Linked DNA regions of Homo sapiens. The protein of the gene in region 2 purifies or fractionates together with the protein of the main gene of each other region. This does not show direct contact. Each region holds a gene or a part of one and is shown on either strand. Other genes may lie near its edges.

Evidence for each region. The genes of interacting proteins can lie anywhere in the genome.
Region 1: the proteins of DLL1 (region 2) and MIB1 purify together in Homo sapiens (affinity purification with western blotting; 2 studies listed by BioGRID). This does not show direct contact.

The regions. Positions count from the first base shown.
Region 1 is NC_000018.10:21,841,455-21,849,105, forward strand, and holds part of MIB1 (E3 ubiquitin-protein ligase MIB1), read left to right. Parts: intron 1-1,676; coding exon 1,677-1,763; intron 1,764-2,637; coding exon 2,638-2,799; intron 2,800-5,489; coding exon 5,490-5,671; intron 5,672-7,651. UniProt on the Homo sapiens protein: E3 ubiquitin-protein ligase that mediates ubiquitination of Delta receptors, which act as ligands of Notch proteins.
Region 2 is NC_000006.12:170,281,304-170,288,327, forward strand, and holds the end of DLL1 (delta-like protein 1 precursor), read right to left. Parts: coding exon 6,936-7,024; intron 4,996-6,935; coding exon 4,935-4,995; intron 4,397-4,934; coding exon 4,266-4,396; intron 4,121-4,265; coding exon 3,951-4,120; intron 3,833-3,950; coding exon 3,616-3,832; intron 2,727-3,615; coding exon 1,928-2,726; intron 1,803-1,927; coding exon 1,685-1,802; intron 1,577-1,684; coding exon 1,571-1,576; 3' UTR 903-1,570; downstream 1-902. UniProt on the Homo sapiens protein: Transmembrane ligand protein of NOTCH1, NOTCH2 and NOTCH3 receptors that binds the extracellular domain (ECD) of Notch receptor in a cis and trans fashion manner.

The DNA.
Region 1 (7,651 bases), on a different chromosome or scaffold from region 2:
CAGTTAGCAAATAGGCAAGTGAAAGCATTATTAGTGATTAACAAAATAGAAATTATAACCACAACCAGTTACTACAATTGCCCACTTAGAATGACTAAAATTAAAAGACCAATAAAACCAAGTATTGGTTAGGATGTGGAACAATTAGAATTTGTATACATTGCTGGTGTTTTTTTTTTAAAGCAGGCACTTTGAAAAACAAATTGGTGGTTTCTTACAAAGTTTGACATATATTTATCATGTGACTCAGCTATCCCACTTCTAGGTATGTACCCAAGAGAACATAGGACACCTTTCCAAGCAAATACTTGTACTAAATGTTTGTAGCAGCTATTATTAGCCCCATACTGGAAGCGAAGCCAAATGTTCAGGTAGTGCTGGGATAAACAAATTGTGCAAATTGTGGTGCACCTATGCAATGAATACTACTTAGTGAAATGTCAATGATGGAAAAGCTCAGGAAACTTAAAGAAAAATCCCCATTGTGCACATTTATGTGAGAAATAGACATGATAAAGAATTAAGCTGACACTCGGAAGGCTAAGGCAGGAGTATTCCTTAAGCCCAGGAGTTTGAGGCTGCAGTGAGCTATGTGCCACTGCACTCCAGCCTGGGTGACAGAGTGAGACCCTATCTCAAAAAAAAAAAAAAAAAAAAAAAAAAAGAAGAAAAGAAGCTGAGATCAGGTACCTTCTGACCACACTTCAAAGAAACATAATAAAAACAAATGAGAAATTCCCATCTTGAAGAATATGACATAACATTACCAAAGTTTCAGCTCTGCATACCCCGCCAGTATCAAGAGTTGTAACCAGAGGGCATGCATGGTTCTAAGACCTAAACGAAATGATCGGTTTATCTTTTGAATCTTTAGCTCTTTTCTTGATCTCATTTTAAAAAATTTTTAAATTATGCTAGACATTTGCTAGGCATTTTCATATGTTATTTTACTTAATCTTCACATTAGCCCTGTGAAATAGGTTTTAACTGTCACCATTTTGGAGCTGAGGAAGTAGATGATGGAGTTTTGACCTAGGTCCCCTGACTCCCAAGTGCACTTATTTTGCTCCTCAGTCTCTTTCTTCATTAGGGTTCAGCTGTTCTCATACGGTTCTTCAGCTGCCCTAGGTTCTTGGGTAGGATTTTCTGCTTACTTTAATGCATAATTTTATGTACGAATTAAGCATTACCTTCTCACCTAAAGCAAACTTTCTTTTCACAGAGTGAGGAAGAGCTCAAATATGCAGCAAGGGGAAGTGAACTTATTAGGTCATTAAAGTAAATCTAAATCCAGTATGAAGACTCATTATTATAACTTTTCAGGAAATATTTAGAGTTCTAAGGAGTTGATTATCTCCATTGCTTTATAGTGGAGATTGAAAGAGATCTGTCTTTGAACTCTACTGTGCTTTGTCCTTTTTAACTGTTCTTGGGTGGAATTACCATAATAAAAATGATTTTTAAAACTTGCTGTTTTACTTCAGAAAGTTTGTTGCCCCATCCATTTTTTTCTACTTTAACAGCAACTGTTACCATATGAGAATAACATTGCAGCAGCTGAAGGAGAAAGTAGCCAGCAGTGTTCGGTGTTATTTATTCCTTATGAGTAGTTATAGTTTTCATGTTCTTTACTGTTGTCAAATTTTAACCATTTAACATTTGTTCTTCTCGTTCAGGGTAATGCAAACCTGGATATCCAGAATGTGAACCAACAAACTGCCCTACACCTTGCTGTTGAACGACAGCATACCCAGATTGTTAGGGTAAAGTATTGACATACATTTTAGCTTATAATTACATTTTAACCATACAGATTTTTAGAACTTCCTGAAAATTGAAATGATACAGTGTTACATGTCTCAAGCTGGCATAGTTAGATATAAGTAAATCTAAATATCTAAATACAATGTGATCTGCCAAGACAGATGAGACCATATGCTTGAGATTGGCTTCTATATATAGATGGTACTTTTCTAAAGCTCTTCAGTAAGTATCGTAGAAGGGATTAGGAAAATTGTTAAAGCACCATAAGCAAAGTTTTAATAAACTTATATTTACTGCTTAAGTAATCTATTGAAATATGTCAACTGTGCATTTTTATTTAGGGGGTTGTAGTTTAGCAAACACTGTTCGTATTTATTGTTATTTGAAATTCCTCTTGATATCCTCCATGGCTTTCTTCATGACCATACATTTGGAGAAAATTGACCAAAAGAGAATGGAATCAATAATAACAGTTCCTTGTTTGTTTACATAATAGAAGAATTTTGAACATTATGATTTGGTCCTGGTGGAAGTGCTTAAAATATCTCAAGTCATACATCTAAAGTTGAAAAGAGAAATAAAGTCCTAAATATCCCTCCGTTATCATCATCTTAGAGTAGATGAATTAAGCAACATATTGATTCTCATATATTTTTATTTTCTCTAATTCAATATATTTAAATAACCAGAACACGTGACTCTTTGTAAGGAGCCACAGGGTTGGAGAAGAGTAGAAGGCAAAAGCATAAAAATGATTAGCTTTAGTGGTAACTTCTTCAGTAGGTCCAGGGTGTTCTCACCATTACTTTAGATATGTTGAAGTTTCTTATGGATGTGGACACTTTGCCAAAATGAGACATCTTTCTCTTTTAGCTTTTGGTCCGTGCAGGTGCCAAGCTTGATATTCAGGATAAGGATGGGGATACTCCTTTGCATGAAGCTCTAAGGCATCACACTTTGTCTCAGCTACGTCAGCTCCAAGATATGCAAGATGTGGGGAAGGTGGATGCTGCCTGGGAGCCATCCAAAAACACGGTGAGTAAAGATCATCTTTCATTCAGTACCAGTGGAAGAATCTTTTCATGCAAGATCTTATATTTACTGGTAATCTAACCTGTATTGGATAAAATATTTTATCAGAGCTATGTACTTAGAAACTTAGTTTATGAACTTAGTACTAGTCAGTACTAACTTATTGCTCCACATTTTTACCAAAAGTTGTTCAGTTCTGTTGTTGTTGTTGTTGTTATGTGGAGTCCCACTCTGTCACCCAGGCTGGAGTGCTTGGCTCACTGCAACCACCTGGGTTTAAGCCATTCTCTTGCCTCAACCTCCCAAGTAGCTGGGATTATAGGCGCCTGCACCACACCTAGCTAATTTTTGTATTTTTAGTAGAGACGGAGTTTCACCATGTTGGTCAGGCTGGTCTCGAACTCCTGACCTCAGGTGATCCACCCGCCTCGGTCTCCCACAGTGCTGGGATTACAGGCCTGAGCCACTGCGCCCAGCCATTCAGTTCTTTTTTAACATCAGCCATTCAAATAGATACGTAGTGGTATCTTATTGTGGTTTAATTTGCATTTTCCTAATGACTATTGATATTGAGCATCTTTTCATTTGTCTGTCACCATATGTATTTTATGAAGTGTCTGCTCAAATCTTTTGTTCATTATTTTGTTAGGCTGTTTGTTTTCTTACTACTGAGTTTTGAGAGTTCTTTATGTAATCGGAATACAAGTTCTTTATATGTGAATGCACATATTTTCTCCCAGTTGGTAGGAGATTTGTCTTTTCATTCTTTTTTTTTTTTGAGATGGAGTCTCGCTCTGTCGCCCAGGCTGGAGTGCAGTGGCACAATCTTGGCTCACTGCAACCTCCGCCTCCTGGGTTCAAGTAATTCTCCTGCCTCAGCCTCCCAAGTAGCTGGGACTACAGGTGCATGCCACCACGCCCAGCTAATTTTTTGTATTGTTTTTAGTGGAGACGGGGTTTCACCTTAGCCAGGGTGGTCTTGATCTCCTGACCTCGTGATCTGCCTGCCTCAGCCTCCCAAAGTGCTGGGATTACAGGCATGAGCCACCACACCCAGCCCTTTTCATTCTTCTAATAGTGATTTGGAAGAGTCAAATTTTTTAATTTTGAGGAAGTCTAATTTATCAAGTTTTTCTTTCATCATTTGTGTTTTTTGTGTGTGTTCTGTCTGAGATATCTTTGCCAAACCCAAGATCGCTAAGGTTTTCTTTTATGTTTTGTACTAGAAGTTTATAAAGTTTTAGCTGTTATGTTTAGGTCTATGATTCTTTTTGAGTTAATTTGTATATATTGTGTGACATATGGATCCAGGTTTATTTACTTGTGGATATCCAGTTGTTCCAGTGCCATTAGTTGAAAAGACTTTGTTTCTTTTCTTTTTTCTTTTTTTTGAGACAGAGTCTTGCACTGTTGCCTGGGCTGGAGTGCAATGGTGTGATCTTGGCACACTGCAACCTCTGCCTCCTGGGGTCACGCGATTCTCCTGCCTCAGCCTCCCAAGTAGCTGGCATTGCAGGTGCACACCACCACACCTGGCTAATTTTTTGTATTTTTAGTAGAGACAAGGTTTCACTATGTTGGCCAGACTGGTCCCGAACTCCTGACCTCATGATCCGTCTGCTTCAGCCTCCCAAAGTCCTGGGATTACAGGCATGAGCCACCACACTCGGCTGAAAAGACTTTCTTTTTCTACTGAATTGCCAGTATACTTTTATCCAAAATCAGTTAATTGTTTATGTGAAGGTCTCTTTCTGGATCATGTATTCTGTTCTGTTGGTCTATGTTTTTAGCTATTTGATACCAGCCCCCAGTCTTAATTACTGTCTACATAATACGTGTTGAAGTCAGGTAGTGTCAGTCCTCCAGTTTTCTTGTTTTTTCGAAGTTATTTGACTATTCTAAGTCCTTCACATTTCCATAAGAATTTTAAAATCATTTTTTAGAGGGTAAAAAGGTTCTGAGACCAAAGTGTTTGAGACCTCTGCCTTATTTATGACCATGGGTAAGTTCTCTTAGCTCGGTGTGCCTCTTTTTTTCTCATTTTAAAATGGGAAGAGGAGAGCACTTACCTCGATAAGGTTGTTGTAAAGATCATGGAAAGTGTGTAAAATAATACTTGATCCATTTTAGACACTCAATAAATGTTAACAGTTATTGTGACTATTTTCACATAAGATGATGAGAAGAATCTCAGATAATATTATCAGAACCTAATTTGTCTCATTCTCCGTATCTTGGCTCAATTCCTAGTCATTGGTTCTTTTCTCAGTTGTCTCTCCTGTCATTGTTTCAAGTTGGTTGCTAGCTGCTCCAGAGCCAAATTAATTAGGAAAGAGAGTACTGTTTCTTTAGTATCTCAATCAGAAGTTCCACTTTTGAGTTCTGTTGGGCTTAATTGACTTGATTTGTGTTATGTGTCCATCCCGGTTCTAGCCATATAGGTAAGGTAGAGGTATCTGACTGGTTTGGGCCATGTTTGGTCCACCTCTGCAGCTGGAGAATGTAGGTCCACCTCTACAACTGGAGAAAGCATACTTGTGTGTATGCTTGAGAAAACCAGGGGTAGAGTGGTGGGGAGGGAACATTAGGACTAGAACTCATAAGTGTCCACCACACACACATACATATATATGATGACAAGAATTGATGGCAGATTCCTAGAGGGAAAATCATGACTCTTTATTTTATTGCAGTTAATAATGGGACTTGGTACCCAGGGGGCAGAGAAGAAGAGTGCAGCATCTATTGCCTGTTTCTTGGCAGCCAATGGTGCTGACCTGAGCATTCGAAATAAGAAGGGTCAATCGCCACTTGATCTCTGTCCTGATCCGAATCTCTGCAAAGCACTGGCAAAGTGTCATAAGGAAAAAGTCAGGTTTGTATTATTTATTATCATAAAACTTAATATTCTGTACAGAAAATATCATGTGGTTTCGTAATGGAGGACGTGGCTACTTGAAAATGTCTTCATCTTTGCTCTTCCTGTATATTTGTGTTGACCCTTTCTTTCCTGAAATTTTTCTTCCTTGAAAATTTTTCTGCAGGCAGCATGTCTCTTATTTTATGCCATATTCCCCACATTATTGAGTGCAATGCTCTATACTTAATAAGTTCTGAGAAACTTTTCTAAACTAGTCTGATCTTCTAGTACTCCCATGTGTTAGAGGGATTTATGAGAAAAAGTCTTCTAGTAAAATTGCTGTTGTTAATGTTACATGTATTTTAAATTGTATTTATTTTTTATTGTATTATTATTATTTTTTAAAAATACGTCTTGCTGTGTTGCCCAGGTTGGGCTTAAACTCCTGGGCTCAAGCAATCCTCTTGCTTCATCCTCAGTAGCTGGGACTGTATGCATGTGCCACTGTGCCTGGCTCTATATTTAAAATTTAAATAGAATCTTCCTAAGACAGGCAACTTATACTCCATGAACAGGGTATATCTCACACAAACTGTAGCACCCTGCTCAGTGCCTGACAGGTGCACTCAGTATCAGTGGAGAATGAACAAATGAATGCACCAAGTCCTGGTGGAGTTTTCTCTAAAGATGATCATTTCACATTTGTCTCTTTTTCTGAAAGATATGTCAGTGATTTTAATTATTATTTATGACATAACTAATTTCCTTATGAGATTTTATAGATGTACAAAAAGGTACACATCTCATTGCTTTTTTAAATCTGAACAGTGCTGTGCAACTGTTGTTGCCCTTTGTACCTGGTTCTTGTCACTGAAATTTCAGTAGCTGTTCCTTAACCTTAGTGTTCCTTGCCTCTCTCATAATTTATGTGTAGTGATGAAATGTCATCTCTTTGGAATCTGTGCATAGAACTGTGTTATAGAGGAAATTAATATAGTGAGGTATATACATTTCTTTAAGTGTATTGTTAAGGAACATGAAATTCTATTACAAAAAGAGAATGCATCGGCCGGGCGTGGTGGCTCACACCTGTAATCTGAGCACTTTGGGAGGCCGAGGCAGGTGGATTGAGGTCAGGAGTTCAAGACCAGCCTGACTAACATGGTGAGACCCTGTCTCTACTAAAAATACAAAAACTAGCTGGGCGCATGCCTATAATCCCAGCTACTTGGGAGGCTGAGGCAGGAGAATTGCTTGAACCGGGAGGCGGAGGTTGCAGCAGTGAGCCGAGATCACACCACTGTACTCCAGCCTGGGCAACAAGAGCAAAATTCTGTCTCCAAAAAAAAAAATCTATAAATATAAAGATATAAGGCACTATAATTATTGCAGTAATAACTTTTAAACAATGGAGTCTAAGGTGGACCCTCTGTGTACGTGTTGTGTACGTGTTCGTGAGTTTCTGAAGATTGTGGTAGAAACAGGGCATCCCTTTTCTGTAGCTGTAGGTGGTCATATGTATTTCTGTTCCTTGTATCTGTGTTTACGGATGCAGTCTATCTTTCTGTAATATAATTTTATGTTCCTTAAGGATACACTTAAAAATGTCAAAACAGCAGCTGAAGTGTTAAATTTTCCAAAGTGCCCTATCTGTTGTGGACTCTGATGATGCTTTGTTCCGTCTTTAGTAAGGCAACTAACATGGGGGCTAGTGAGGATTTTTGTTTTATTCCTATGCCTTCCTCTGCTGGTTCTATATAGATACAACAGGTTCTGAGCAAAATTTTGTTTATGCTAAGTTTTTTTTTTAATTGCTGTTTTTTATTTCATTGTTAGAAGATTCACCCTTTTCCATTGGGTGAGTGAGTGTTCAGTTTGAAGTTTGAATTGTGTTAGAAGTATCTAAAGATGCAGAGACGCATATAAACACAAAAATTTAATGTTTCACATACAGATGTTAAAGCTTAATTTTTTAATATGACTAGTTTTTATGTA
Region 2 (7,024 bases):
ACAGAGTTCCCTGGATTCGGCTGCGCAGATGCGTGGGGCGTCGAGGAAGGAGTTTTCAGTCCCGTGTTTCCGTAACTGGTAATGAGACTGAGAGCTGTCATCGGATTCAAGCTCAATGTTCTTAGCAAAACACTTCTCCTCTTTGCTGGTGTTGCTGGCCTGGCATTTAACGTGCCCTTAATGCAAGGAGGAAATGCAAGCGGAGTCGGGTCTGAGGGGAGTGAGCGCCAGTGCCTCCGCGCAGCTCCTGCTACATCGGTCGCCCTCTTTCCATCCTGGGAACCGCTCAGCGCTTTGAGGTACGCGCAAGTTAAAAATGCAATCACTACCATAAGGAACCCGGGCTTAGCGGGGGGCAAAGCGGCAAATGAGGGGTCAGCCCACAGGGAGCCCGTGCGGTCCTGCTGAGCCAGCAGGCGGGACGCGCTTAGAGACGGGGCTGCCCACCGACGGGAAGCGGAGGAGCAGCTTCCGTGACTCCCACGCCCCGTCTGGGGCCATGTTGGCGTCAAACGGCGACAAAATCATGACAGCTGTGACCCACTGGGTACAAAATAACTCACAAGTCTACACTGACATGAATGAATGAATGAATGAATGAATGAATGAATGAATGAGGAACGCTCATTCTTTCTGCGGAAAGAACTAATAAATGCATGGGGGGATGGAATTAGAAAATCGCGGCTGCTTCATGCGCGTGCCTGCTCTTACCAAGTCACCTCATGATGGCCAGCAAGCAGCTTCCTGAGGGAGGAGAGGAACGGGCTGCTTCTCATGGATCCAGGGAAACCAAAGCCTTGAAAAGAGAAACACCAAGGCCACCTCTGCCCTCAGCCTCGCGGGCCGCAGGTGAGTGAGCACACCTCCGCTCTAAGGCAAAGCCAAGTAACTACGCCTTCTGGTTGTCATTCATAAAATTTATTTTGGAAAAATATTTTAAAAAGGAATTTCTTCATTAACAAAACAGTAAAAAACTCAAATAACATTTGCACAATATTCCATAAATACATTTATATACAAAAAAATATAGTCACATAGACCCGAAGTGCCTTTGTACATATTTACCAAAATTTAAATTATAAAAAACGAACATCACAAAATACTCAAGCTTTACAGATATCATGAAAAATATTTTTACAAATCCAAAAAATAACACACATCTTTTCCATCTAGAAAAAGCACATCTTCGTATCAAAAAGGACAATAAAGGCAGTGTTTGTGTTTCTAATTCAAGAAAAGACTGGCTCATAAGAATCCAAAATATACACTCAGGCAGTGCATGCTTCTTATGCGTAATTCAGTTCACCCATTTAAATATATATTCTCTTAAGAGCAACTGTCCATAGTGCAACGGCGACGTCACGGAAGGCAGTGCCGCAGGCGGCCGGGCCGCGACAGGCTGTCGGCAGGCGTCGAGGACCTCAGGAGGAGAACCTGCTCGGTCTGAACTCGGTTTCTCAGCAGCAGTCCACGAGGCCTCCCTCCTCTTCAGCAGCATTCGTTGGGGCATATATCCTTGGAATTTTACTTATTTTAAGAGAAACGGGAGTCTTGCCATCTCACTTCCATTTTACACCTGGGGGGCCACAAGACAAATGGGAAGTTAGCCTGAGACCGATTCCCGTGCTCCAGCTTCAGGTGCTCCCATGCCGAGGAGGAGGGAGCGGCTGCTGCCTGCACTGACCTCAGTTGCTATGACGCACTCATCCTTCTCCTCGGATATGACGTACACCGACTGGTACTTGGTGTCTTTTGAAGTTGAACAGCCCGAGTCCGGCCTTTTTCTTTCAGATGCTTCTCCACTAAAAGGAAAATAGAGAAAATCCACAATGAATGCATGAGAACATTTGGGAAGAGAAACGGAGCAGTGGTTCCAGGAAGACACCCCCCAGGTACCCCCTCCTGATGCCCGGCCCGCAGCACGCACCCCCTGAGTGTGGTCGGGGTCCCCTTCTCCTCCCCTGAGGAGCCCTGGGGCTGGCACTTGGTGTCACGCTTGCTGTGCGCGTCCCTGACGGCGGTGTCGTCACCCTTGAGGTCCTGCACGAGGTTATAGTCCACCGCTGGGTAGCGGGCCTTGAAGCCATTCTTGTCGGCGCTGTGGTCCCCGTGGAAGTCCGCCTTCTTGTTGGTGTTCTTGATCTGCGTGGCCCCGATGATGCTGACTGAGATGTCCTTCTCACGCTGGCAGTTGGCCAGGTTGTTCATGGTCTCCGTCTCCCCCCGGCAGGGGTCGGCTGGGGGCCGGTGCTTCTGCAGCCTCAGCCGGACGCAGACCACCACAGCGGCACAGCCCAGCAGCAGCATGAGGACAAGGATGACCCCGGCGCACACGGCCACCCAGGGGAATGGCCCGCCCTGGCCCTCTAGCTTCTCAGTGAGGTCCACCACCGCTGGGCCCGGGGGCAGCTCGGGGAGCAGGAACTGGCAGTTGGGACCCCCGTAGCCTCGGGCACACTCGCACACATAGCGGTGGCCCCTCTCGTGGCAGGTGGCCCCATTGTGGCAGGGTGCGTGCTCGCACCTGCTGACGGGGGCACTGCAGTTCCTGCCCGTGTAGCCAGGCGGGCAGGTGCAGGAGAAGTCGTTCACGCCATCCCGGCAGGTGCCCCCGTTGGCGCACGGGGAGGAGGCGCAGTCGTCCACGTTGTCGTCACAGTGCCTCCCCGAGAAGCCGGCCTGGCAGCGGCACAGGTAGGCATCACCGAGGTCCACACACTTGGCACCTGGAACACAGGGACATGAACATCACGTGTCTCCTCGTAGGTTTGTTCACCAAAAAGTCACTCTGAAGCATCTATCTGTCTGACACTGTAGAAACCAGACAAACCAAAGACAGTCTGTGGCCTGAATGAGTCCACAGCGCAAGGTGACATGGTTTAGGACCTCAAATACGAGAGGTGTCCAGGTCTAGCTCTACAAGTCAGAAACCACACGGCCAGCATCTGGACAGGCGCTGTGCAGAACACTCTGGTGGCTGCATTAGTCGCCACAACAGCCGGGCAAGAGCATGTGCCACTCGACCCAGGTTTCAGATGGGGAAACTGAGGCTTAACGAGGGTGTCCTTGCCCACAGTTACACAGCAAGTGAGAGGAGCAGGCACTGACAACAGGGGAGGGAGGGAGGGGAAGGATGACCATTCCGGAATGCTCCGGCACATCTGGGGCCCAGCTCTCCTTGCTGTGTGTCTCCTTTGGGCAGCCAGCCCCTCGCTGCTAGCAGGAGGCTCTCTGTCCTCACTCAGGGACACCCCCAACTACTGTGCTGGGTGGCCACACAGCTGGGCCATCCTCCCAAGCTGGAGTGGCCGGCACCTGTGGGCATCACTTACTGAACCTCAGGCGGCCGCAGGTGCCCGAAGCACCTTGTGGCCCTGAGCAAGTCATTCACTGCTTGGTCTAGGTTTCCACAGAGAACTTCATAACAAATGCCCTGGCCTCTCTCATTCCCCAGGCCTTTCCAGACTCAAAGATAGAGTTTCCATCGAGAATTCCTGGCGGTCTGGATAAAAGTGATTCATAAACTCGAGGTCACTCACAAATGCTTGTTTTTAATGCCACCTCAGTATTGACCGCTCGCCCGAGTCTCTGAGCAATCACCAGCTGCCCCCTTACCATTAGAACAGGGTGAAGAGCTGCAGTAGTCAATTTTCTTCTCACAGTTGAAGCCGGAGTAGCCCACGGGGCAGCGGCAGCTGTACCCTCCATCGGGGCTGTCTGAGCACCGACCCCCGTTAAAGCAAGGGCCGTCCGCACAGGTCATGGCACTCAATTCACAGATTTTGCCGTAGAAGCCGGGTGGGCAGGTACAGGAGTAGCTGTTCTCGAGATCCTACACGATGGAGAGGTCAGAAAAGGCTTTCCAAAGTTGCTCCAAGGAGCCCACACACTCCATTCAACACCAGGGCACCCCAGCTTCCGGGTGAGATGCCATGGAGCCTCCGACTCACCGTGCAGCTCCCTCCGTTCTTACAAGGGCTGGGGTCACACTCGTCAATCCCCAGCTCGCAGGTGGCACCTGTGTACCCAGGCCGGCAAGAGCAAGTGTAGCTCCCCTGGCCCGTGTTGGTGCAGGTGGCTCCATTCTTGCAGGGCTTATGGTGTGTGCAGTAGTTCAGGTCTGTGAAGGGTGGGGACAGGAAAAGTAGGAGATAGGAAGCTCGACATCAAATGCAGGAAGACTTTATTTTTCCAGTGATCAAACAGCCAGGGAAGTCCAGGGCTGCTCTGGAGGGAGCAGGCTGCCTCAGGGAGAGAAGGCTTACCCTGGTTGCAGAAAAGGCCCCCCCAGCCTTCCTGGCAGTTGCACTGCCAGGGCTGCTGGCAGGTGCCATGGAGACAGCCTGGATAGCGGATACACTCGTCACAGTACCGGCCCTGCCAGCCCACTCTGCACCTTGGAGAAAAGCAGAAGACTCAGATGGACGTTGACTGTTGCTGGCTTTGCAGTGGACATTCTCACCCTAGAAACCATCTTCCCGCAGCACCAGTGAGCCTCTGGTTCTCCAGATTAGCAGAACACTGGGTCACCTTGGGAGCTGCAGCCTGGGCCTGGGCCCCACCAGAGGTTCTGGCTTCTTGGGTGTTAGGGCAGCACCAGTGTCAGCATCTCAAAAATCACTCCCTGAGTGATTCTAGGATGAGGCAACATTTGAGAACCATTGAACTATACTATCATTTCCTGTGCCAACTCTTTTTAAACTACTATCTGTAAATTCTCATAGCCGTTAAGGGGCTTAGACGAATGACAACTCCATGACCTTACATGCTGCCAAACATTGATTAAGTAGAAACATGAGAAAACGGCCCCCTGTTCAATCAATCTTACTGGAGTTTTTCGAATGATCACCTAGGGCTGTTTTTACAAATACACCAGCTGTGAAAAGATAACAAGAAAAGGCAACAAAACAAAACACCACCTTGTGCAGACTTACTTGCATTCCCCTGGTTTGTCACAAAATCCATGCTGCTCATCACATCCAGGCAGGCAGATCGCTACAAGCAAAGGAAAAACAGGGTCAAGCCCCACGCCAAGTACGTCCCAACAGGGCTGCCGCCCTTGGGGCCAGGACACAACTCGCCGGCTTCAGTCAGCAAATCCCAGCTGAGTTAATCTTCCCAGGTTGTGGAGGACTGACCCCCCTGCCTAGTAGCCTGGGACTTGACTCAGCCCTGGGGATGAGCATTCTTCTTAACACAGGGGCTCAAGGACAAAAGGGCTCTCGGAAGCCCCCACCCCCACCCTATCCCCTTTTCTTCTAAGAGAGGGTCAGAAGTCTTCCCCCTCCTCCTCCCCCACTTCCCAATTCTGTGCACAAAGCTCCACCTCTTAATATCCCAGAAAGTGTGTGTGCAGATAAGAGTGGACAGCTGGTATGCAGGGTGCCAGGGCAGGACAGCTGCTCCATTGTCTGTCCTCCACGGCAGCTGCCCCAGCGCAACAATGCCGGCCTCCCCCGCGCCCCCGGCCCCACCTCCTCACACACACCCCTCGCGTGTACACACACACACACACACACACACGCACACGCACCCCTTCCGCCAATGGGAGCCGGCGGGTGTCCCTGCGCCTATCCCCGGAGAGATCTAATCTATGGCACGCGCGAGCTGGGGGCGGGGAGAGACTTCAGTGTTTGAAGAAAAAAGTTTAAGTTTCTGGCTACCCTGTGGTGAAGAGAGGCAGGGAGGAAGGGTGGGAGGCAGCAGACTGGCCAGAGGCTCCCGCAGGGCAGGGAGTAGACAGTGGGCTTGAGGCTTGGAGCTGGCTCTTGCTGCCTGGTTATGAAACTCATTAACAAGCAGCTCCACAAGTTGTTTTTTGTTTTTTTGTTTTTCCCCAGAACCAGTTCAGGCCAAGGCAAAGCTTAGAAGGAGCTCAGTAAGTTCCGGAGGGAATTTGGGAAGCTAAGGAGCAAGGACATCAAGGCACTCAGTGAATGGGAAGACCCACCCTCAACCCCAGGCACTACCCAGCTCCTGCCAGAGGTTCTGGGCCTCCCAGAGCCCCTCTCCAAGGTTGTCCAGTTCCAAGGAAGGAGAATGACAGTTCCCTGGAGTTTCTGGGCAGCTCCAGGACCTACCCAATCCCCAGCTGTAGAGAAATCCGGTACCAATGGGCTGGGACGGCCAGGCGTGCAGGCGAGGCCTCAGTCAGCTGGAGAGAGGGCTCCTGAGGTCCCCATGAGCCAGAACCAGGAGCCAGCACGGCCCCAACCCTGCCCTAGTCACCTGCCTGCCATGACATTGACACATCAATACCTAATAAGAGGCAGGTAGAGCCTCTGTCACTATTGGGAAGACATTGCTTCTCCAGACAAGGTGCTGCCTGAGCATTCAAGCCAGACGGGGCTGTGCACCCCTCGCCCACACAGGCCTTGGAGACCTGGCCTCAGCAGCCCACAGGAGTGAAAGCCTGCTCTCTGGCCAGCATAGACAGTGCGTGTCACAGGGAGTATCCGGAAAGGCGTTTGCTCCAGAGAGGTCAAGCACACCAGCTCCAGAGAGAAAATGGAACGTTTCCCAGTGTGATGCTGTTCCAGCACTGGGAACTCGGGTTGAAATGGTGCCCCTGACACACAAGCTCTCTCTGTGTTCCTCCCTTCCTTCCTCCTCTCCCTCTCTAATACACACACCCTGGGGGTAGCACTGGCTTTACTTCCTGACCCCTGGCCCTGTCTCTAAAATCCTCCCTGATTAAGAAAGGCAGTTCCGATAGTGGATAAACACAGCCTGGGATGTTAAAATGTCTGCGTTGACCCCAACCCCCCCACTGACGAGCTGTGACTTATAGCAATCCACTTCTGTCCTCTGGGCCTCAGTTTCCCCACCAGAACATCTCTACAGTCCCAAGCCCCCCGTGGCTCAGGAAGCCCCGTCCCTGCGCGCGGTCCGTGTTCGTGGACGAGTGAGCCAGCGGTGCCTTCCCAGAGACTCACGCTCTGTGCAGTAGGGCCCTTTCCAGCCAGGGTTGCACACTTTCTCCCCACGCTCCCCACAGGTGAAGTGGCCGAAGGCATCGTCCCGG